Linked DNA regions of Homo sapiens. The protein of the gene in region 4 purifies or fractionates together with the protein of the main gene of each other region. This does not show direct contact. Each region holds a gene or a part of one and is shown on either strand. Other genes may lie near its edges. The genes, in order: SEC31A, VTI1B, SCFD1 and NSF.

Region 1 (7,038 bases), on a different chromosome or scaffold from region 4:
GCCGGGCTTGATGGTGCATGCCTGTAATCTCAGCTACTCGGAAGGCTGGGGCAGGAGAAGTGCTTGAACCCAGGAGGCAGAGGTTGCAGTGAGCCGAGATCACGCCACTGTACTCCAGCCTGGGCGACAAAGCGAGACTCCGTCTCAAGAAAAAAAAAAAAAAAGTTGCTGCAATGTTTTAAAACAGCTAGCAAAGCAAAACCACCAGTATATCATGGAATAAGTTCCTTGATTAACCAATCTCTCTTCATCATTAATAATATCCAACATATTTATTGGGAATTTTATGATTTTCCCTTAGAGGAAAAAAAACAAAACATTCCTTCTAACATGACTGATTAATAAAAAAACAGGATTTGACTTCACAGAAATTTGATTTGTTGTCAACTCTGACAAACAATATAGGAATACCTACAGCAGAAATACAACATGTTCATCACAAGTCAATCACATACTTACTCTGTTACTATGGTCACTGACTTTGATGATTGGCTCATTTTTTCTAAGATCCCATACAGTGGCCCGGCCACTGGGACTGGCTGATGCTAAAATATGCTGAACTTGTCTGTTCCATGCAATGCAGCTGATATCTTCTGGCGGCTACAAGGAAGAAACAGTTAATAAAAACTGCTTGTTTCTCTATTATAATCAAATTTAACTGTAAAATTGGATCCTTCATTTTGAAAAGTGTATTACTTAAAAATCTGATCCATTTATGCCACAAATTTGCTTTATAGTCCTACATCTCTACATTCTCAACACATAAAATTATATGACTTAAAATGCAGGTACATACCACTTCAAGTGTATTATCTTGTTTCATAATATCTCATTCAACAAGAATTTTATTGAATTTCTGCTATAAACCAAGTACTGTTTCTTTACTTTGCAACTGCTGCAAGGTAGATTATGGACCACAAAGTAGATGTTGGTGACTATGACAGAAAACTAGGCAGGGCAAAATTACAGCCTAGACCATTAGCAAAATACCTTTATAAATGGTAGTGCATATGCTGTCATTATGCTACCTCTCAGATTGCCAAAATGTTAGAGCCAGTTACAATGGCTACTCAAGTTGGATAGCCTATACAACATAAAGAAACTCAGGGAAGAACAGGAGAAGACTGTTGTTACCAAACTTAATAGAAATACACAAGCAAAGGGCTTGAGGTATTTATTTTAAACCTTGTCTTCCATGGTCTTGTCTAAGTGTGTTTTAAGAAGGTTGGTTGTTGCCAAAACACAGAGCAACTATCACACAAAGAACAAAAATAATTATACTATATCTAAGACAATTATTAAGGATTTTTGTTCATTTTGTTTACTACTGTATGCCTAGTACAATGACCAGTGTCTACCAGGTGGTAGGTACTAAATAAATATTTACTCTTGATGGACTCACTGATACTTTGAAGAAACATATTTATTAATTACTGAAGAAAAATCAGTAATATCTAAACAATGATTTTAAACATATATGTTTTGTGTGAGAAGCCTTAAAAGTGAAATAAGTAGGTTTAGGAGAACTACTTTTGGCTTTTTTGATTACAATGATCAAAATCAATATAAAAATACCTGTGTTTTGGCTCCTGGTGTCATTGGGGTTGCAAAATTATTTAGATCCCATATGTAGATTTCAGATTCATTAGCACCAGAAGCTACCAGATTAGTCTGCAAGAAGAAACCATAACTAAATAGCACTTATGAATAATTAAGAAAATTCAGAATAACTCAGTTCAGAGCTAGAAAGATATTAGATGTAGCATACACAATTTTTCTATTTAATTTGAAAAGTGAAAAACATATGCATGAATTTCTAAATTATGCATAATTCTTTCAAAATTTAAAGTTTTCTAGAAAAACATAAAATTCTACTTAACAAAGACAAAAGATGTCTACTGAGAACAAATTAATTTTAATGCAAGATATTATTTTAAAAATTATATGGATAAATTCTTTTTTTTTTTTTTTTTTTTGAGATGGAGTTTTGCTCTTGTTGCCCAGGCTGGAGTGCAATGGTGCAATCTCAGCTCACCACAACTTCCGCCTCCCGGGTCCAAGTGATTCTCCTGCCTCAGCCTCCCGAGTAGCTAGGATTACAGGCATGCACCACCACTCCCGGCTAATTCTGTATTTTTAGTAGAGACGGGGTTTCTCCATGTTGGTCAGGCTGGTCTCAAACTCCTGACCTCAGGTGATCCACCTGCCTCGGCCTCCCAAAGTGCTGGGATTACAGGCGTGAGCCACCAAACCTGGCTGGATAAATTCTTAATCAGTCATGCAACCATGTGAGGATTACTGTTTGTATCTTTGCATCTCTGGAAGGAGATTTAATTATAAGATTAAAAAGGTCATCAATTATTGCTTTCAGAAAAAGCTGAATCCTAAAACTGTGGCATCTTTCTCAGGATACCTCAAAGCCAGCTTCCAGAGCTGAATCAATACAGCACTAGTAAAATCTCTTGTCATAACTCTTCACATATTTCTAGTTCATATACACTCAATCTTATTCCAGGTGGCAATATTTCTAGGTTTTCTCTGGTACATACCTTAAGGGTCAAAAAGAACCTGAAATTGTAATATAAAGTACAGGAAGATAATGGGCTTCATATACTGACCTTCATCCACTACTATTTACTCTTACAAATTATTCTCTATCAGTTGGCATATAACTAAAAAAAGGGAGACATTCTATGGTAGTAGCTACCTATAACACAAAATACTTTATTAAAAATCATCAGCTGTTCAATACAATTAACAAAGGAGTTAGCTAAAGAGCAGATACCACAAACTATAGAAACGAAGGCTGGGCACAGTGGCTCATGCCTGTAGTCACAGCACTTTGGGAGGCTGAGGCAGACAGACCACTTGAGCCCAGGAGTTTGGGACCAGCTTGACCAACACGAAAAAACCCTGTCTCTACAAAAATTAGCCAGGTGTTGTGGCTCATGCCTGTAGTCCCAGCTACTCAGGTGGCTGAGACAGAAGACTTGCTTGAGCCCAGGAGGTCAAGACTGCAGTGAGTCATGAGCCACTGCAGTCCAGCCTGGCAGAGGGAGCAAGACGCTGTTTCAAAAAACAAAAAACAACAACAAAAAAGAAATAAACAAGTTGGGTTTCTGTATTGCTATACCCTAAGTATCTATTTATAATATAAGAAAAGGAACTATTTAAAATTTTCTTAATACTCATTTTTGGTTGTTATAATCTAGTATCCTATTAACTCAAGGTCTTTTTTTTTTTTCCAGACAGGGTCTCTATGTGTCACCCAGGTTGCAGTGCAGTGGTGTGATCATAGCTCACTGCAGCGTAGACCTCCCAGGCTAAAGCCATCAACCTACCTCAGCCTCCCGTGTAGCTGAGACTACAGGCGTGTGCCACCATGTTCTGCTAATTGTTTGCATTTTTTGTAATGACAGGGTTTCACCATCCTGTTCAGGCTAAGATCGTTATTAAGCTGTGCATTTATATAATTAACAACCAGAAATGTTTATGAAGGCAACAGTACAAAGAATCTTAATTGACTATTTGTTAAATCTGCATTACATTTCTTTTTTCTTTTTTTGAGTTTTGCTCGTTGCCCAGGCTGGAGTGCAATGGCACGATCTCAACTCACTGCGATCTCCGCCTCCCGGGTTCAAGCGATTCTCCTGCCTCAGACTCCCGAATAGCTGGGATTACAGGTGCCTGCCACCATGCCCGGCTAATTTTTGTATTTTTAGTAGAGACGGGGTTTCACCACGTTGGCCAGGCTGGTCTCGAACTCCTGACCTCATGATCTGTCTGCCTCGGCCTCTCAAAGTGCTGGGATTACACAGGTGTGAGCCACATGCCCAGCCATTACATTTAATTTCTAATTATTTCATAGAGTATTAATCTCTGTCATAAACATAAAATTTCTCAATTAATAAAACAGTGAATTAACCTGGACATCACAGCACCAGCCTAATGCTGACCTAGCATGAACTTTTAAAAGGCAAGGTTTCCAACCTATAGGGATCTTAATGTTTATAAAATGTCTAATCAAATGGCGTGACATCTTCAGACTTAAACCTATTAGCCAGCTGGGCACAGTGGCTCACGTCTGTAATCCCAGCACTTTGGGAGGCCGAGGCGGGCGGATCACAAGGTCAAGAGATCGAGACCATTCTGGCCAACATGGTGAAACCCCATCTCTACTAAAAGTACAAAAATTAGCTGGGCGTGGTGGCAGGCGCCTGTAATCCCAGCTACTCGGGAGGCTGAGGCAGGAGAATCACTTGAACCCAGGAGGCAGAGGTTGCAGTGAGCCAAGATCATGCCACTGCACTCCAGCCTGGTGACAGAGCGAGACTCCGTCTCAAAAAAACAAAAACAAAAACAAAAACAAAAACCTATCAGCCGGATCCTTTTCATGGAGGTAGTATTTTTAACCCTGATCTCAACTCTGAACCCACCATTCTTTAAACAAACACTCGTCAACCTGTATAGCCACAGTTTTTTAACTTTCAATTCCAAAACTGAGGCATAGTAGATTCATATACTGATTTCAAATGAGCAGCACATAGTCTAAGAATTATGAAATGTTAAAGTCTTAACCTGGAAAATGTTCACATCCAAGGCTCTCACTGGGCCAGTATGCTTGTCATTCTGGGCAATCACAACTTCCTTGTCTCCAGCTATAATTTTAGAAGGATCATAGAGAATAATATTTCCATTTTCACCACCTGCAATCAGAACTCCAGAGACATCTCCTTTGGAATCCATTTTATAAGGCCCCCAAATCAACTTGTGGTACCTACAGGAGAAAATGAATAAAATCATTCATTCTTAAAGTCAAATAAATGTAGACAAAAAATTGAAATTATACACTTAATTTTTAATGTTTTCATAAACAATCCAAATATATTACTTTCCCACCACTCCTGGTAACTATGTATGACTTTGGTGTAATAGTATTTCATTTTTTATTTATACTCATATTTGCATATGTGATTTTGTAATCCTTAAAGAGTAAAAACTCTTGTAAGGTAGTGTAACAAAATATACTTGAGTTGTGTGTCAAAAAATATGAGCTTAAGAATGATTTTACCATTTAGAAACTGTGAGACCCTAAGTTACTTAATCTTCTTAAATTGCCTCTGGTTCATTGTAAAATAGAGCTAATCAATCACTTCCCTCGAAAGGTAAAAACACTCTTTATTTGACTATAGAAGGGTCTCATGCTTTGACCTTTGTCTGAAAAAAAAAAAAAGGGGGGGTCACTAACAAGTGGTCTGTTAAATAGTAAAGGTGTTAAAGGAGTCATGTGAAATTTTCTAAGAAAAAGAATGTATTCTAATGGTAGAAAAATGACATCAAGATTATAACAAGTACCCCTACTATTAGAGAATAAAATATATGGTCCAGAATGGAGATGAAATATGAAGGCAGAAAGGTATACGATGATACAGATGGTAGTAAGCAGAAAAACTACTAGACAAAAGGTATCTGGGGTTCCCATCCCACTGTGACAGCTCTGAAGAATATGAGCGGTCCCATGAAACTGCATGATTTGAGCTATATTCTGTCAGCTAAAGAGCAATCTCTTTAAACCCTGCTAATATATTGAGGCAATAAAGCTTATTTTATTACTGAAATGAAGACCTCCTTTCTCTGCATTACAATAGGGCATAAGTACTTGAAAGTATGATCCAAATACCTAGTTACCTAGTGTATTAGAAATCGTGTCAACAAAACTGTGAGATATATTTCTAAATATCGTAACAGAAGAAAATAAAAATAAGCTACCATTCAGAGATAATCACTATTAATACTTACGATGACTACTCCTTTTCTAGTCACATCTACCTTTTTGTAAACAGGCACAATAAAGGAGATAGAAAAAAGAACTCTATACAAAATTAGCCAGGCATGGTGGCACATGCCTGTAATCCCAGCTACTCGGGAGGCTGAGGCAGGAGAATTGCTAGAACCTAGGAGGCAGAGGTTGTGGTGAGCCGAGATTGCGCCATTGCACTCCAGCCTGGGCAACAAGAGTGAAACTCCATCTCAAAAAAAAAACAAAAACAAAAAAAACCACACACACACCAAAAAAACAGAAAAAAATGCTAGAAACTACAGCCTCTCCTTCCTACCTTACATGTAACAGCAATAAAAAAGCCAACAGAACATACTGGCCAAGCGTGATTCCTCATGCCTATAATCTCAGCACTTTGGGAGGCTAAGGTGGGTGGATTGCTTGAGGTCAAGAGTTCAAAACCAGCCTGGCCAACATGGCAAAACCCTGTCGCTACTAAAGACACAAAATTAGCTGGGCAAGGTGGTGTGCACCTGTAATCCCAGCTACTCGGGAGGCTGAGGCACAAGAATTGCTTGAGCCTGGAAGGTGGAGGTTGCAGTGAGCCGAGATCGTGCCACTGCACTCCAGCCTGAGCTATGAAGTAAGATTCTGTCTCAAAAAAAAAAAAGAAAAAAAAAAGTCAATAGAACACATAAACACTACTTTTACTTCCATAAAAATTCACTCACATGCTTTTTCACAAAATATTTCATGTTCTTGATGGTATTCCTTGTAGTTTCTAATAATGGCATAATTATAGACAAATTAGGAATCAAGAACAATATATAATTAAATAATCACATGAATTTAAAGCTGAACCTCATACCTGTGAGAAGAGGAGAATGTGGCACAAGATTTCATATCCAAGGATGGATCAGAGAGGTCTAATTCAAATATCTCAAGGGAAGCATTCGTACTAAATGTTGCATCCAATTGCTGAGCAGATGTTCCTATAGAAAATATATTTATGGTAACTATACACACAAAAATAAAAGATCAGAGAAACCATACAAAACAGAAGTTAAAAGCATGTTTTCCATTCTCTTGCTCATGAATGCTGCACATATGCCATTGAGCAGATGCTTAAATTACTATAGCAATGAGATTCTGGCACAGGGCTAGGAGAGGATGTTTATAAGAGTGGGTAGTGTAAATAATTTTTTAAGCCTGTATATATTTAAAAATCTCTGTAAAAATGGTCCCGTGATGGGGGCTGG
Region 2 (7,038 bases), on a different chromosome or scaffold from region 4:
CCCGAGCAGCTGGGGTTACAGGCACCCACCACCATGCCCGGCTAATTTTTTTACATTTTTAATAAAGACAGGGTTTTGCCATGTTGGCCAGTCTGGTCTCAAACTCCTGACCTCAAGTGATCCATCCACCTCAGCCTTTCCGCTGCAAAAGAGAACAGATGAGCCGGGCTTATGGAGAAATGGCATGTGGGTATTCAGTTGCTGTCCTGAGATTTTCTTAGATGATTTGTCTACTCTGATTTTCATCTTAAGACCTGGCTTTTTTTGAGACTGTGTCTCACTCTGTTGCCCAGGCTGGAGTGCCGTGGCGTCATCTCAGCTCACTGCAAACTCCAACTCCTGGGTTCAAGTGATTCTCATGCCTCAGCCTCCTGAGTGGTGGGGTTACAGGAGTGCACCACCACAACCAGATAATTTTTCTATTTTTTGGTAGAGAGGGGGTTTAACCATGTTGGCCAGGCTGGCCTTGTGTGGTCCACCCATCTCGGCCTCCCAAAGTGCTGGGATAACAGGTGTGAGCTAGTGCACCCGGCCAAGCCCTGACTTTTGAACCCAATCCTACATAAGATGTAATGTCACTGTAATGCTTTATATGGATTTACATTTTGTTAATCACAACAGCATCTAATGTCAGTTATATCTTTTTTTTTTTTTTTTTTTGAGACAGTCTCACTCAGGCTGGAGTGAAGTGGCATGATTACGGCTCACTGCAGCCTCGACCTCCCAGGCTGAAGCAATCCTCCCACCTGCTCAAGCAATTCTCCTGCCTCATCCTCCCAAGTAACTGAGACTACAGGTGCAGGTTACCACACACAGCTAATTTTTTTTTTGGTAGAGATGGGGCCTCACTATGTTGCCTAAGCTGGTCTTGACTCCTGGGCTCAGGCAATCCTCGACCTCAGCCTACCAAAGTGTTGGGACTACAGGTGTGAGCCACCACACCTGTCCTTGTATCCCACTTTTTAAGTGACCATAAATCATTTTGGATGCGTATATTCTATAATCTCAACTTGAGACCAAGTTCCTCTGAAACATGGAAATTTATTTTGTCATTTTTACTGTGCCATAGATCCTAGAACTATAAACCTCCTTAGATGTGGCTACTGCCTGAAAGGGCAAATGACAACACACCCTTTACTATGTCTCATTCATTGTTGTGTGCCACCCCCTTAATATACACAAGATACTTCAGACAATTTTCTCCATACCACTCACAAAACCCATGGCTGTTTGTTGTTTAAAAAAAGGTAGAGGAAGGTTCACCATGGCAAATGGTATGACTCTTGACCATCTATGATGTAACTGAAATGAGCACCAAGGCAGCTATTACTGTTCCTGAGGGGGATGTGTTCTTAGCTACCAGTACTGAAATAATACCGACAGTCAAAAACGGCTACTTCCATGGAGCAGTATTGTATTATTTTGTAATAAGCTGTCCCAAAAGTGCTGAGCATCATCACTGCTCTGAGTCAGCACATCTCCAAACTCAGGCATGCTCACTCCTGATCCAAGCCAGACAGTAAGAAGCAGTACTGTACACATATGTACATTCCCTTCCTAGCTCCTTCCTTTCCTAGACTTTTCTACAACTGTGTTTAGTCATAAATTCTCCTCCTTTATTCTTCCTTTGTTAATGGGTATGAAAATCCGCATTCTCAAGAGGCAAATTCTAGAATGATTCCAGGAATGTAACTACATAAATGAAAGGGGGAGAAGAAGACCACAGAACCTCTCTCCTTTCACTAACTTCTGTGTGCTAGAATATTCCATTTCCTACCTGATTTCATAAAACACATTTCCTCTTATAAGTGCTCTATAACAACATACTTTTACAGAACTTCACTACATTTATGAGATCCTTTCTGGACTTCTAAGATTTAAAACAAAACAAAACAGAAACCTTTGAAATCATTTCTTGTGATGATAAAGCCAGGGAGGCAGATAATTCAAGAGACTGATCTCTACCCAACTGAGAGGGATCAATAGCAGCTTTTTAAAAATTCTTTAGGCTCAGAATTATGAAACCAATGAATGCTAGAGCTAGGATGTACCTCAGCGATCATCTAGTCTAACTTCCTGCCTTTACCACTGAGGACACTAGACCCTGGAGAAACTGAGTGCCTGCCCCACAGTCATTGGAACAGCAAATGTATGGCAGCACTAGTTCTGGAATGCAAGTGTGCTGACTCCCAGTCCAAGGCTTTTCTGTATATTAAACAACTGTATACTGTATACAACTGAGGGGCATTTTTGTGCTCCCAGAGTATAGCCTTTAACAACTGGTAAAATCTGTTGAAAAAACAAAAAACCTCTTCCTCTTTTTAGGGAGTTAGAATTGATGCTACAATCAACTACAAACAGCAAGGTGGCATCCTGGGGAGAATGGGCACCATGAACAAGAATGAACCACTTCAAATACCACTATCCCCCACCCCACAAGCCTGCCCAAATCAGTCACATGTGAGGGACTCTCTGGGACCAACTCTGTCTCCTTTGGGAAACTGGGTGGATGCTGACATGGAGTAAAATGGAAACAGACAGCTCTGAAAAACAGCACTACAGAAAGCCTACCTTAATGTTTGACCAAGGTGGGCAGCCTCTCTTCCTTATGGGGATTTGAATTTCCAGCCCAAGAATGCCTAATCTTGGCCCTTTAAAGTTGTGGAAACAACTTCAGTTTCACCAGCTCATAAATATGTGGTTACTTTGCTTTTGGTGCCTCACTGTGGCAAAATGGAGGACTTACACCCTTTATTTGTACACCGTGACAGCTGACTAGATCCCACACCATACAAGAGTTAAAAGCAACAGAGATCCCTCTCAACCAACCTGTTTCCTCATCTGCAAATAGGGACTATAAGACTACTGACCTTGTAAGGGTTGTTTGAAAGGGTTAAAAGAAATAATACACATAACATTCACTTAGCAAGTGCCAAATATAATAAGGGCTCAATAAATAGAAACCACCATTGTTTCTGAAAGTAAATACTTAGGAAGAACCTAAGAGCAAAAACCAAATTCAGTAGAAAATATGAGGAGTTAGAGGCCAGGCGCGGTGGCTCACGCCTGTAATCCCTGCACTTTGGGAGGCCGAGGCGGGCGGATCACGAGGTCAGGAGATCGAGACCATCCTGGGTGACACAGTGAAACCCTGTCTCTACTAAAAATACAAAAACTTAGCCCGGCGTGGTGGTGGGCGCCTGTAGTCCCAGCTACTCGGGAGGCTGAGGCAGAAGAATGGCGTGAACCCGGAAGGCAGAAGTTGCAGTGAGCCGAGATCGCGCCACTGCACTCCAGCCTGGGTGAAAGAGCAACACTCCATCTCAAAAAACAAAAAACAAACAAACAAAAAAAATGAGGAGTTAGAATAGTTAAAATTCTACAGTCTGTAAGTAATTGGTGTTTATCGGCCAGCTGATTATAGTACTCCATAGTGACTATTTTTTCTGGCTCTGAAAATAATAGGGTCTTGTGTTATACATACTGATCTAAATGATTTAAAATGGAAAACTTTCAATATTTTTATGATACACGTTAAGACATATGGAGAGATGTCTTCAGGTATGACAAAACCAAAACTAGAAATCATGACCACAGGCATTTAACATTGATTAGATTAAGAAATTATAGCACATTATAGTACTCTGAGGTAATTGGAGAGACCTCTTCAGAGGTTGTAAAACCAAGAGTAGAAATTATGGCCATAGGTATTTAATGAAATATTAAATGGATTAATAATTATTGTAAGTGGTAATGGACAGTTACACAAAAACTTCCTAAAACAGGACACATTGTCTCTAGTATCATTCAAAGGCAGAAAGTGAATGGAGACTGTACTTTGGAGAAATACAGTTTTTGTTGTTTTAATAGGTGGAATATACCCATTTTTAAAGTAATGAAAATGTGGACAACAGAATAGAAATAAATCACAATCATATATCAATATTTTCTTTCCAACAATTCACACATTCCATCATCCAATAGGTATCTATGAAGCACCTAGTCTGTGCTAGGCACTGTTCTGGTACTTAGGAAACACAGTGAAAAAAAGACAACATTGAGCTTATATTCTAGCTCAGTGGCTTTCACACTTAGCCTTCATCAGAAACCCCCTGGAGGGCTGTGAAAACACACTGCTTGTTAAAACTTTCTGATTCAATAGGTCTGGGGTGGGGCCTGAGAATTTGCATTTCTAACAAGTTCCCAAATGATGCTGATGCAGCTGGTTCATGGACCACAATGAAACCACTGTCCTAGTGAAAGGAAGACAAACAATATACTGTAAATATCATAAATGTGGAAAGTGTCTAATATGTCAGAAAATAAGTACTCTGGAAAAAAAAAGGTAAGAATAGTTGTATACAGGGCTGGTATTCTTAATTTTCATTTAAATAAAATGGCTAGTAGCTCTATTATCAGGCAGTATTCTAAGGACTTTACATATATTAACTCATTTACTCCTCACAAAAACCCTGTGAAGTAGATACTATGATTTATCCCCATTTGGCAGGAAAAACTAATTGGGTTAAAGTAACCTGTCCAAGGTCACACTGCTACTAGAAGGTGAATTTAAACTCAGGCAATCTGGCTCTTGAATTCTTGCTGTTAAATATTATACTATATGGCCTCTCAATTCACATACTTCTTCATAATTTTTTTTTTTTTTTTTGAGACGGAGTCTTGCTCTGTCACCCAGGTTGGAGTGCAATGATGTGATGACAGCTCACTAAAACTTCAAACTGCTAGACTCAAGTGATCCTCCTGCCTCAGCCTCCTGAGCAGCTGGGATTACAAGTGAGCAGCACCACACTACTCAGCTTTTTTTTTTTTGTAGAGATAGGTCTCACCATGTTGCCAAGGCTGGTCTCCAACTCTTGGCCTCATGCAATCCTCCTGCCTCAGCCTCCCAAAATGTTGGGATTACAGGCACGAGCCACCACACCTGGCCCCCGTATGTTATTTTTAATGGCAGAAGAAGAAACATTTTGTAAGGCTATATTATGTCATGATCTCTGTTCTACAGGTACCTTTGATATTCTCATCCACAACCCAAACTCTGCTTCTCCTCTTATGTTTCTTACTTAAGTTCATCATTCACCCAGTTGACCAAGTGAAAAAATGCAGACACCCTGGAACCTTTCTCCCTCACTCCTCATATCCATTGAGGCTGGTTAATTTCTGCCTCAAAACCAACTCTTGGGCCGGGAACTGTAGCTCACCCCTGTAACCCCAGCACTTTAAGAGGCTGAGGTGGGTGGATCACTTAAGCCCAGGAATTCGAGAACAGCCTGGATAACATGGGAGACCCTTACTAAAAATACAAAAAATTAGCCAGGCCTGGTGCCATGCACCTGTGGTCCCAGCTACTCGGGAGGCTGAGGTGGGAGGATCACCTGAGCCCGGGAAGCCAAGGCTGCAGTGAGCAGTGATGGTGCCACTGCACTCCAGCCTGGATGACGGGAGACAGGAGTGAGAACCTGTGTCAAACAAATTCCCGTTAGCAAGGTGACTGCCCAAAAGGCTCTTAACACAGTCCCCTGTACCCAGATTCTTGTGCTCTCTCTTGTCCTGTCTAGCCATTAATGCCCTCCTTCTAAAAGAAAATCCACATCAATCAACTGCTTTACGTCCTTTACTGACTTTCCATATCAAGTCCAAATGTCTCAATGTGACACTGAGATCCCCTCACAATCTGGCTGTTTCACCTGCCCCTCTACTACTACTTTCCCACATACATTCTAAGCTCCAGAGTTGGGAGTATTCCATGTTTTACTCCTGTGTTGCCTCTTCGCATTTCCCATCTAGCAAACTCCCATTCAATCCCTTATATTCAGTTTGAAGTTTTTTGAAGCTTCCCCCTCTTCCCCATGCTCAAGTCCAGCCCTTTTTATGGTCTCAGAGAACTTTATTTTAGGATTAATCACACACTTGGTTGTAAGGTTTGTTACCTTTTTTTTTTTCTGAGATAGAGTCTCGCTCTGTCGCCTGCAATCTCTGCCCCCTGGGTTTAATCGATTCTCCTGCCTCAGCCTCCTGAGTAGCTGGGACTACAGGCACATGCCACCACACCCAGCTAATTTTTGTATTTTGAGTAGAGATGGGGTTTCACCATGTTGACCAGGATGGTCTCCATCCGTGACCTTGTGATCCGCCCGCCTAGGCCTCCCAAAGTGATGGGACTACCAGCATGAGCCACCGTGCCCGGCCGTTTGTTTCTTTTTAAGGTAAGAACTCTGGAAGTCCTCAGAGCCTAGACAGTGGCTGATACATAATAATTCTCAGTGTTTATTGAAAAATGACTGAATTCAATTACAGAGCATAAGCTACATGCAAGGACTGTATTATGTACATTATGCTGTGCCTAATAATTCATGATGGGCATTAAAGCTCTGAAAACTTTATGATGTGGTCTCTGAACTAGAAAAAGAGGATTCAGAGATGAGGCACCATGTGTTTGCTTAGATAAATTCAATTTATTCAACAAACATTTATTGAGCAGTGTGAATGAGGTAGTGAATAAGAGGTAAAGTTGTTGGACTTATTATAATTCTAGGGATATGTATATATTTTCTTTACTTATCCATTAAACAACTATGTCTGTTACCAGCAACTTAGAGTATTTTGTGGTTGGGCGCAGTGGCTCACACCTGTAATCCTAGCACTTTGGGAGGCCGTGGCGGGCAGATCACTTGAGGTCAGGAGTTTGAGACCAGCCTGGCCAACATGGTGAAACCCCGTGTCTACTAAAAATACAAAAATTGGCTAGGTGTGGTAGCATGCGCCTGTAATCCCAGCTACTCGGAAGGCTGAGGCATGAGAATCACTTGAACCCAGGAGGTGGAGGTTGCAGTGAGCTGAGATTGTACCACTGCACTCCAGCCTGGGCGACAGAGCAAGACTCTATCTCAAAAAAACAAAAAAAAGAAAGAAAAAAGAAAAGAAATTCACATATTTCTGATTGTCCTCTTTGCAGGATGGAGAAAAAGGCTGGGTAGACAACAAAGGTGAATGTAACTATCTTAGCTTTATGTTGCTATA
Region 3 (7,633 bases), on a different chromosome or scaffold from region 4:
ATAATGCAAATATTCCAAAATCAAAAACACTCCTGGTCGCAAGCATTTTGGATAAGGGATACTCAACCTGTATCCATATTCCTAGACTTGGTTAATGTCATTACTTACATACACACTATTCATTCATTCAACACGTTTGATGAGTGCTCACCACAGGCACTGTAGTTATTGGGGATCTAGCAACTGAACAAAACAGTGAATAAAATCGCCTGTCCTCAAGTAGCTTTCATTCTAATTGGGGGATAAAAAAAATAAAATAAAAAAAAAGTAAAACATATGGTATGTAGATCATGGTAAGTGCTTTGAAGAAAGGTAAGATTGGGAAAGGGGAAGATGGAGTTGAGGTGTAATTTTAAACAGAATAATTGGGGAAAGCCTCCTGAGAAGGTAACATTTGAGTAAAGACCTAAAGGAAGTGAGGGAGTGAGCCATGGAGATTATCTCTGAAACAGTACTCCACAAAGAAGAAACAAATACAAAGGCTCGAAGGTGGGAGCATTCCTGGTGGGTTCAAGGAGAGGGAAGAGAAATAGGGAGTGAGGTCCAAAAGCTACATGGAAACCAGATCGTATAAAGCCTTGTAGAACACTGTAAGATCACTTTGGCTTTTATCATGGTTGAAATGGGAAGATGCTGGAAGATTTTGAGCAAACATATGGCATGATCAGTTTGGGTACTGTGTGAAAAATAATGAAGGAGAACAGGATTGTAAAAGCAAAGAGACCAAATAGGTTACTGCAGAAATTCATGGTGGACAGGACCTCGGAATAGCAATGACAACAGTCAGATCCTGGATGTATTTTCAGAGTAGAACTGACAAGATTTACTGAAAGATCTTACATGAGACATGAAAGAGACAAGTCAAGAAAACTTCAAGGTTTTTGACCTGAACAACTAAAAGGACGGAACTGCCATTAACTGATATGGAGTAGACTGAGTTCAGATGGGACGGCCAGACTAGGGATATAAACCTGGGAATCATCAACATACAGATAATACTGAAAGCTAAGGCGCTAGATGAGAACACTAATGGGACCCTGCAATGTTGAGAAGCTGGGAAGATGTGCAAGAACCTGTAACGAAGACGCATTCAATGAAGAACAACAGTAACACGGAGCAGGAGGCAACTGATTCTACCTATTGAACTGAAGGTATGGATAGAGGGGACAGTGAACCAGGAAGAAAGGAGATGGCTTGTGGGATGACCTTCAAAAGATCAATAAAGATTTTTCAGGAGACCAATAAAGATTTTTCAGGCAGGCAAAGCAAGAAACAGGCACGTTAGTTTACCTCTATCTTACTTTCCTCACCTGTAAAATGGAGATAATACATAATCACCTAATGCAATGCCTAACAATAGTAAATGCTCAATAAATGCCAACTATTATCTCATCCACCCAAATATTCTAGTATCTAGAATATTTAAGGACTGTGAGTTATCTCCCAAAACATTCTCCATAGGCATGAGGGAAATAGCTAATTCTGCATTATAATATATATACAAGGATTTACCTTCCTCTGAAAATAAGGCAGAATTCAATGACAGTAAAAATTTGATAAAAAATAGATCTAGCACTACCTAGTAATTCTGTAAAATCTTACTATGTTTATTTCTGCAGAAATACAAACGATTAGATTTTAATGATCTACAAAATTTCTGCATACAAGTTTACGGCCACGCAAATTTATTTTTCAAAAAGCTCTCTTGTATTGGTACAGTTTTACTGACACGTTATTTTAATATGTAGTATAGTCATCAGAAACACAGTATTAAAACAAATGGAGCTTCCATTTGTTTAAACATATACAACGAATGGCAGGTATGCCCCAAATCTTATTTGAACTTCCCTATATTTAGTTATGCCTGACTTCACCTGATAGGTTATACTAAATTATTTACTGGGAAAAGCAGAACGCAACTCAGTATCTTTTGTGTGTCATTACTAAATTGAAGTCTATCACTTTTTCTTTAAATGCCAAAGGAAGGAATCAAGTACAGCCCAAATCCCTTCTGTAGGTCATATGAATTATAAATTTATTTTCCTATTCATATTTATATCCAACAGAGCATAATTTCAGGAAACAGAATTCCAAGTATGCACATTCTTGATGCCTTATTTCTATTAGCTCCTCAGAATAAATTGCTTGAAAACTTTTAAGACAACTAGTTAACAAGTATAAACCTTTAGTTTGTAGCTAACAGGTATAAACCAAGTTGTCATGAGAAGTTTTCAAGTAAGGCAAAACTAATTTCTAAGACGGAAAAAAACCCAAAACTCAAGAGAAGAATATGTGCCTTTTTACATTTCTCTGCATAAATAGAAGCTATATAAACATGCTCTATTGAAGATAAAATATTATTTTAAAACAATGTGTCAAACAATTAAAATGAGAAAGCTATTAATTCATTTGTTTTGCCATTCTTCAATGCCTTCCAGCAAGCTGAAGGAGAAAATGTTTATCACCAGGCATTTTTCTGCAGGTACCCCCAAAAGACTGGTCCGAAGTAGAGAAGTGGCGCAAAGCAAGCCGCTGTGAAAATACCTAAATTCTCTGAGTGTCAGAAAATGGGAGTTCTCTTAAAAATCAAAACCAGGAGAACTGAACCACGCACAGAAACTCGGAGACCTCATAGGTGGCAACATAGATAAGAAGCTATCAGCTGCTAGATCTTGTTGTGATGGCCTTCTGATGCCCACTAGGAAGGAGACAAGAGCAGGGCCGTAGCAATCCGCCCACCGCTGAAGCTCCTTCTCCTGCACCACAGGAGGAACCGAGTCCTCAAGCTAATGGCAACTTCTCCCCAAAAACTCAAAGGGGAGGGGCTCTTGATGTTCTAGGGACTGGATTAAACTCCTGGAGATCGGTCTCTGAGCTGCACGCACCAGAGGAGAAGGATGTCGTCGGGGCAGTCACGAAGCTTCAAGGAGAAGAGAATAAGTCAGTACCTGTCTGCCTTTCCCGAATACTGGCTGCTGCTGCTGCTGTCGCTGCCGCCGCCGCCGCCATCTTGGCTCCCACGAGCCACTGCCCGGCTGGGGAGCGGAGCGGGGGGATGACGTGGCTGCCCTTACCGCCCCGGAAGCAAAGCCCGGAAGGGCGGGGCCAAAGGGTGTGCCTGAGTTCCGGACCCCACCTCCTCCAGGAAGACCTCCACTCTCGGTAGAACTGGGAGACCCGGTGCAGGTTAATTCAGTGGCCCGTAATGTTAGGCGAATACTAAGAGTTTTTATCCTACCGAATCAAGCCACACTCTCTCAAATGGTAGCAACATTAAATTGAGCTGTTAGGGTAGGAGCGTGTAGTGCTAAGAACCTAATTACTGAACTGTTGGTTTGGTGACTTACAGAGCACTTAAAGGGTGATAATGCTCTAGGAGTATAAGGACCACAGGACTGAAGTAAATGAAGCTCCTGAAACACAGGCAACATTTTAACGTTAGCTCTCGTTTCTCAGTGCAGCAGGAGTCTTCCCTTTGCTCCTTTCTCCAGAGAAACGGAAAGCATTGGAGCATTACTCTGATCTGGCATATTTCTCAGTCGCATCTCTTTAAAAAAAAAGGTGTAGCTTTATGGTGGCGTTCTGCCGGCATGGACACGGGATCCAGGGAGGTACAAAATGAGAAATTAGCATTTCTCCTCTTTCCTTGTAGTAATTGCAAAATCACCTTGCCGTGGGAAGGAAGTCAAGCAGTAGTGGGGTGTGTTGCCTAGGCTGGAGCGCGCAATCAGGGATCACTGCAGCCTCAAATTCTGACGGTCAAACGATCCTCCTGCTTCAGTCTCCCAAGTAGCTAGGGACTACAGGGGCACACCATCAGGCCAGGCTGATGTGCTGGTTTTTGTTGTTGTTTTGTTTTTGAGATAGTATCTCACTGTCTGTCGCTCAGGCTGGAGTGCAGTGGCAGAATCTCGGCTCACTGTAGTCTCGACCTCCCGGACTCAAGCGATCCTCCCAAACTATCCTTCCACCTCAGACTGCCCACTAGTTGGGACTATAGGCAGGGGTCACCACGCCCGGCTAAATTTTTTTTTTTTTTTTTTGTAGAGACGGGGATTCACCATGTTGGCCAGGCTGGTCTTGTGCTGGCGGTTTAATGTACACTTGAAGCCACGTGACCGCAAAATATATGGGATAGATGATTTCTAACTTAATCCATAGATTTTACTGTATGACCAAAATGGATACACAATGACACCTCATTTCCCGAGTTCATTGATGACGCTTCATTATGAAGTTGCACCAAATTCTGAAATGAAATCACTCTGTACCTCAAAAGCTTAACTTTCACAATTATATAAATGAAATGGTTAGCCTAACGATTATATATTGTTTTATAGTGTGAAACACTGGCTTTTTTCATTAATAAAAATTTATTTTTGTGACATTTAAAACAGGTTATCTTATTACATAATCTCTGCCGGGTGCGGTGGCTCACGCCTGTAATCCCAGCACTTTGGGAGGTAGAGGTGGGCAGATCACCTGACGTCAGTAGTTCGAGACCAGCCTGGCCAACATGGTGAAACCCGGTCTCTACTAAAAATACAAAATTAGCCGGGTGTGGTGGTGGGCGCCTTTAATCCCAGCTACTGGGGAGGCTGAGGCAGGAAGAACTGCTTGAACCTGGGAGGCGGAGGATGCAGTGAGCAGAGATCGCGCCACTGCACTCCAGCCTGGGTGACTGAGTGAGATTCTGTCTCAAAAAAGAAAAAAAAATTATGTAATCTCATTTTTATAGCTAATTGGCACATTCATTAAGAAATTAACTGGAATACATGTGTGTCTTCAGTACTATTACTAATATTTTGAAGGAATCTTCAATGATCTAGGTGTGTTCCAACTAAACAAATTATTTCTGCCCTATGGGAAAGTTCTACTGCATTCTACAGTCTCTATGAAATATAAAATGTCTGAGAGCCCAATTTTGCTCATTTGGGTACTTCCACTTTCAAATGCAAATCCATCATTGAGCCACTTCAGTTCCATCACAGATTCTCTCCCAAGACTATGAGTCATGTTAAAACCACGAAGACAATTTTAAAATTGATGTACACTGCATATATATGAAATGATAAAAACTCCTGACCAAGTGCACAGAATGTGGGCAATAAATTTATAGAAAAATACACCTCACAGAAGAACAGCAACCATAGACAAATAGCCCTTGTAAGGCTGAGACTGAATAAGGTATTTGTTTTATTAGAATCAGAAAGACTGAAAATAATCTATGGCTACAGATTGTTCATTAACCTAATTTACTATAGCCATTTATCTGAGTCCAGATTTTTGGCTTAAATAATTTATTCTGGTAAGCTATTTTACATTAGAGGATACATAGTTTTAACACAGATTCCCTCATTTCTATAGGTTCCTGGGTGTCAGACACTAACTGCTTGCTTATAGGATCTCTCAAATGTGGAGAGTAAAGGAATCTTGTATCTTTCAGTTTCGTCAGAATCTTAATCTTATTAAATCCCAAAAAATTACTTAGTTTAAATAGGCAGTTTACCTTTAGTGGCATAAACACATTTATTTATTTATAAAACATTGTTATAAATGTCACGCTTTTTGGTTAATCTGGCAGTCTTTAAAAGGGGGGGAAATAGGCTGACATATAAACGATCACCTAGCATAATACCTGGCATAGTGTAGGTACTGGGATATGTTTATGAATTAGAAGAGATAATGGTCAAAATCAGAACTTGAAAACTGAGTCTCTTCAAGACAATCCAAATTTTCCTAAACCACAGATAATATACATTCAAGTAATTCATCATTAAATGGGTTATGTTTTGTATTGCATTACTTGAAGCATGAAACTTTGTATTGCATTACTTGAACCATAAAAACTAGTTTAATAGCTTATTTTAAAGTAACAATGCAGTACATGATAATCACTATATAAAAGAATTACATGTTTATAATGTAATGATTTTGTTCTGATCATTTTCTTATAATGACTGAATGCTAAAGGCACAGTCACTGAAAAAACTTACCTAATATACTCCCCTTGACTTAGTATTTAGCACTGAATACAAAAGTTCCAATAGCTTCCATATAATTAGGGGAAAAATTTACAAATGCATAAAATAGAAACCAAGGTGAATTCTCATGCTGGTAATCAATCAAAGGCTTTTTACTTAACCCAAACAAAAAAAGTCACTTCCTCAAATTACAGAAACTAAAAATTACAAAGTATAAAATTGTAAGTTTCTGGTGAGATATTTTAAAGAATATCTTGAATAGTAGAGAATTGTATAAAAGGTGTTAAAGTTTCCATATTGGAAAGTGTTTAAAAACAATGAATATCAAACTAACCAAAACCATTAACAGTAGATGCATTATAGATCAATTTATAGTTTTCCTCAACATTAAGAGCAAGAGAAAACAGCCTTAAAATATACAACATTTAGGCAATTGCAATATTTAAGAAATATATGTACACATTTATAAAGATTTATAGCATAATTCTTTTTTAAAATCTAATGTAAGAATTATGCACTGGTTATAAAATTAATAAGAAAAGAACAATTATAATACCAACCATTTGACAAAATGACACTGCAGAAAATAAATAACCTACAGGTTTCTCTGATATTCCTTGACCATACAGATTAATCTAAAAATGGTAATAATGGAACATCCTTCAAACTAGAAAACATTTTGCAAAATAAATATTTATGCTTCACTTTAAAACATGAATATCCTAAATTATTTACACCATCTTATCACTAAGGCCCTGTCTATATATAAAATAAGTCAAATGAGGAATTGAAATACTGTTTTTAATTGTAGCTAACCCAAGTACACTGCCTCTCCACCTGCCACCCCCACCCCAACAAAGTATGTGTGTGTGACTTAATCAGCTTTAATTTCTACCCTAGGGGAAATTAATTGCAACTAAAAACCAGAAAATAGCTTTAACTAGGTTTTATTGGTTTGTATTGGTTTTTAGCTGTAATAAAAATAAGGTGGATAAAGAAACAAATATCTTTTTATCAACATATTTGGAATAAAAACTGTATGGTGACTTTGGGGTTTATATTAGCTATTCAAACTCTTTGATAATTGATCTTTCAATTACTATTGGTGAGACAAAAAAATTCAACCAAAGCCAAAGAAATGTCTTGTTTAATGTTCTTAAATATTTCAAGTTAAAGTAAAACAAATTTGCTAGGTATGTTAGTGTACAGATTGAAAAAGACATGAGGGAACAAAGAAAAGTACACTAGAATTATGTTTTAGTTTTCCTTTGGTATTAAGAGATATATTATCTCTTTCAAATCTATTCTGTTACTTAAAAAATATCAATAATGTAATGATTTTTCTTAAGAAGGGTGAGAATACAACAGCTGACACCTGCTTTGTGTATTAAGAAAAATATGGTTAAAACATTTTACTTCCCATAATGATTTACTTTCATGGAAAACTGAACCATTATATCATTTAAATATGTTAATAGATTAAGGACATCAGACTTTGTTTTCCAATTTTTTCTTCTGTGGGAGTATAAATATGGGGACATGACTATGGGACTATATATTTTCACATTGTTAGCACTTTGTTAGTACAGTTACTTTTAGGTATTGTCTTTTAGTAGCATTATTAAAGTTAAAAAATAAAGGAAACAGAA
Region 4 (3,334 bases):
GCTGAGTGCAAGTGGCGTGATCCTGGCTCACTGCAACCTCTGCCTCCCAGGTTCAAGCAATTCTCCTGCCTCAGCCTCCTGAGTAGCTGGGATTATAGGCATGTGCCACCACACCCGGCTGTTTTTTGCATTTTTAGTAGAGACAGGGTTTCACCATGTTGGCCAGGCTGGTTTTGAACTACTGACCTCAAGTGATCCACCCACCTCAGCCTCCCTCTCGGATTACAGGCATGAGCCACCGTGCCAGGCATTTTTTTTTTTTAGTAAGATAAAATAAGTATAAAGCATAAAGATGGTTGTATATTAACTTTTTCTGATACTCTAATGATGTTTTTAAATAACTATACTTTCTAAATAAGAGATTTTTAAAATAAAAATCATCCCTCATGTTATGCTACTTGTAACAAAACACGGAGAGGTTTCTTTCCTGAGCCCCCTCCTTCTTCCTCCATTCCTATCAGCTGTTCATGTCGTTCTATATGAAACACTGGTCTACAGAACATTTTCAAGTATATTTACTCTTTATTGCATTCCTTCATTTGCATTAAACAATATTTTTTCAATACAGTTTTGGACAAAACACAAAGACATTAAGCTCATTTAACAAGAGACATAAGTTAACACAATGTGTGCTGCTTTCATGAGGAGGAAAGAGGCAAGATCTTAGAGGAATCCAGGATACTGGCCACCAGGAATCACAGGATCTCACAATACAATCCACTTCTTTAAAAGCCACAAAATAAGCTAGGGAAGAAAACCCAAAACAAAGAAGATATGACATCCAAGTCTCCACCAAAAGTATACAAATGGCAAGATTTGGAGATGATCTGCTTTCTCACATGAGGACAAATAACAGAGGAGCCACACCCAAGTGCCACTGTGGCCACAAGCCTCATGGGTGGCGTGTGAGGTAAGCACCTTAGGATGGCTTCTAATTGCTTGTCCTTGCATTTTAAGCAGCAGTTGGGAGAGAGAGGCACACTCCATAAGTCTCATCACCAAATATGACCTAATTAAATTCCTGCTAAGTCAGTCAGTTGTAAGACAAATCACCCTCAAAAGGACTCAACGGGTGCTTCCTTTTGGAAGAAGTGTGTGGAGGGTAAAGGAAATGTGTTCAATGTATTGGAATGGACAATAAAGGACTGAGGGAGAGGGCTAGAAAATGATTGATTTTTCTGGAGAATAGTGTTTTAGACACTAGATAGTACAGATCATTTAAAATAAAGGATAAATTCTAAGTAAGTCATTAAGCTAAGGAAAAAGCAGTGATACTAGTAAGCCTTAATATTATACTAAGGAATTGACCCACTTGGAGTTGGACACTAATTAGTGCTGAGAGGTTTGTAAATTACTTTAATAACTCCTTTCTGTTTGGGGGTGTATGCTTTTTCCATACCTATCTTTCACATGTTTTTAACAACATCTTCTAAGTGGTAATAATGAGCATATCTCTTACCACAGAGCAAATTAGTTATACTTAAGGGGAAGTCACAACCAACACGGTAGTCATCTGACTTTCTATTAAGAAAGATCTTCTGACTGCAACTTGAAAACATCTCTGACAATGATTGAGAACAGCATTTTAGAGATTCAATGCCTTGTTTCTTCAGGCAAAGAGAATACCAGTCTTGTGGGAGACCTTTAACCAAATACCCAGTGACTTTTAGTGTTAGCTCAGGACAGCTGTCAGAGGATCTCTGGCCCACACCTCGATTTACTAAGCCAGATTTGCATGTAGAAAGTCTGCCTTCTAATCGGCCAACTGTTGTCATGCAACATTCATGACACTGACTGAGAGTTTTCAAGGGTGATGGTGCTAGTAGAGAGGTTGAAACGTGTAGTGTCCACAAGTACTGGATGGTTCCCACCCAGAGGGACTGAGCAAGAAGGAATCACTTTAGCCTGCATGGGAAGGTAAGCGCAGCATTCTAAACCAAATTGACACCTTCCACGAGACACTAAGCTATCTCAGTATGCATAAGGAAGGGAGTTTTATTGCACTAATCATGCAGAGCGAGCACATGTTGAAGGTAGAGAACGTTCCACTTAGTCCAGTATCTTGAGTAAGACAGTGAAGATCCTAGGCCATCTTCACCTTGGTCACTTCCCTTGGTCACTGTGTGTTTCAAATAGTTCATTTTCAATCAAAATCAAGGGGGCTACTGCAAAAGAAATACCAAAACACAAAAAAACAGATGAGGGTCCGTAAAAAACTATTCATCAAAAAAAAAAAAAAAAAAATCACTAAAAGCTTCTTAATGGTTATCCTACATTTCCCACTATGCATTTGCTATTAGATGAGCACTTCACAAAAGAAAATGGTCACAGCTCCATGCATGTAAAAGCAGGTTCCAATAAATATGTACCATTAAGTTTTTCCTGCATTGTGACAAGGAAGTTTTGCGAAGCAGGACAGGGAGAGCAAACCAACAGTACAACCAACTTCCTTGCTTGGTCTCTCGGACCTACAACACAGCGAAGAATTCAAATAAATGGAAACAAACTTATCTAGGAAAGCAACTCTTAGAATAGGCACAGGGATTTAACAGGGTGGTAAGTTTGGTTGATGGTCATTAAATGTTGTATGTACTTACGCTCCTTCTTCTCTTAAGAGGGCCAAGAATTTTCTCACACGGTATTCAGGATCCATCTAAATACATCAGAAGAAATGAAGATGGGTTAATGGTACCTTCTAACAACTCTGCACTTGCTTCATGAGAAGGCAGTGTTCGGTTTCACACTTCATCAATGCTCTGCTAGGTCACTGAATGTGTTACCTGCTCCTTGACCAGCATTCTCACACAAAACAAAGCAGATCACATCATTTGGAGGAAGTGAATGGGGTTTTCCAGAACTATGTACACTGGGTTCCAAAAGACCCAAGCCCGCTGGCCATCATAGGCACTTGGGCCAGGCGTGCCCTGTGCTGATGCCTGTGAGGCATCGCTGTGAGACTGGACAGGGCCATTCATCAGAGTTCAAATGACAACCAATTCACCTGTTGAAGGTGTAAAAGGCTACTAAAGTCACAGCAAAGTAGAAGATACCAAGTTGAGGTTAATTCAACAACTAAAAAATAGCTTATTAACTCTACATAACCAACCATGTAGCTTTTCTTAGCCTCAGTATCCGTCATATAGTTTCTTCTTTGTAGTAACAAAGTTGTGCTAAAACTAAAAAAATGAAGAGTACTGCTGATTCCTGAAATCATCTCCAGATGAATCTGGGTCTCCTGTGACTGCGAATGTGTCATGAGTCTAAGAAAAGATGGCGCAACTTTGTTTCAGGTGCTTCGTTCAGGTCGTTATTATTAGCTATCTCGACTGGTTTT

What was found.
Region 1: the proteins of NSF (region 4) and SEC31A fractionate together in Homo sapiens (co-fractionation; 2 studies listed by BioGRID). This does not show direct contact.
Region 2: the proteins of NSF (region 4) and VTI1B purify together in Homo sapiens (affinity purification with mass spectrometry; 2 studies listed by BioGRID and IntAct, with this or other methods). This does not show direct contact.
Region 3: the proteins of NSF (region 4) and SCFD1 purify together in Homo sapiens (affinity purification with mass spectrometry; 3 studies listed by BioGRID and IntAct, with this or other methods). This does not show direct contact.

The regions. Positions count from the first base shown.
Region 1 is NC_000004.12:82,874,152-82,881,189, forward strand, and holds part of SEC31A (protein transport protein Sec31A), read right to left. Parts: intron 6,772-7,038; coding exon 6,648-6,771; intron 4,778-6,647; coding exon 4,579-4,777; intron 1,672-4,578; coding exon 1,576-1,671; intron 601-1,575; coding exon 460-600; intron 1-459. UniProt on the Homo sapiens protein: Component of the coat protein complex II (COPII) which promotes the formation of transport vesicles from the endoplasmic reticulum (ER).
Region 2 is NC_000014.9:67,664,619-67,671,656, forward strand, and holds part of VTI1B (vesicle transport through interaction with t-SNAREs homolog 1B), read right to left. Parts: intron 1-7,038. UniProt on the Homo sapiens protein: V-SNARE that mediates vesicle transport pathways through interactions with t-SNAREs on the target membrane. These interactions are proposed to mediate aspects of the specificity of vesicle trafficking and to promote fusion of the lipid bilayers.
Region 3 is NC_000014.9:30,617,715-30,625,347, reverse strand, and holds the start of SCFD1 (sec1 family domain-containing protein 1), read right to left. Parts: upstream 3,030-7,633; 5' UTR 3,010-3,029; coding exon 2,949-3,009; exon of another isoform or gene 2,886-2,948; intron 1-2,885. UniProt on the Homo sapiens protein: Plays a role in SNARE-pin assembly and Golgi-to-ER retrograde transport via its interaction with COG4. Involved in vesicular transport between the endoplasmic reticulum and the Golgi.
Region 4 is NC_000017.11:46,754,633-46,757,966, reverse strand, and holds the end of NSF (vesicle-fusing ATPase), read right to left. Parts: intron 2,654-3,334; coding exon 2,598-2,653; exon of another isoform or gene 2,594-2,597; intron 2,166-2,593; coding exon 2,144-2,165; 3' UTR 503-2,143; downstream 1-502.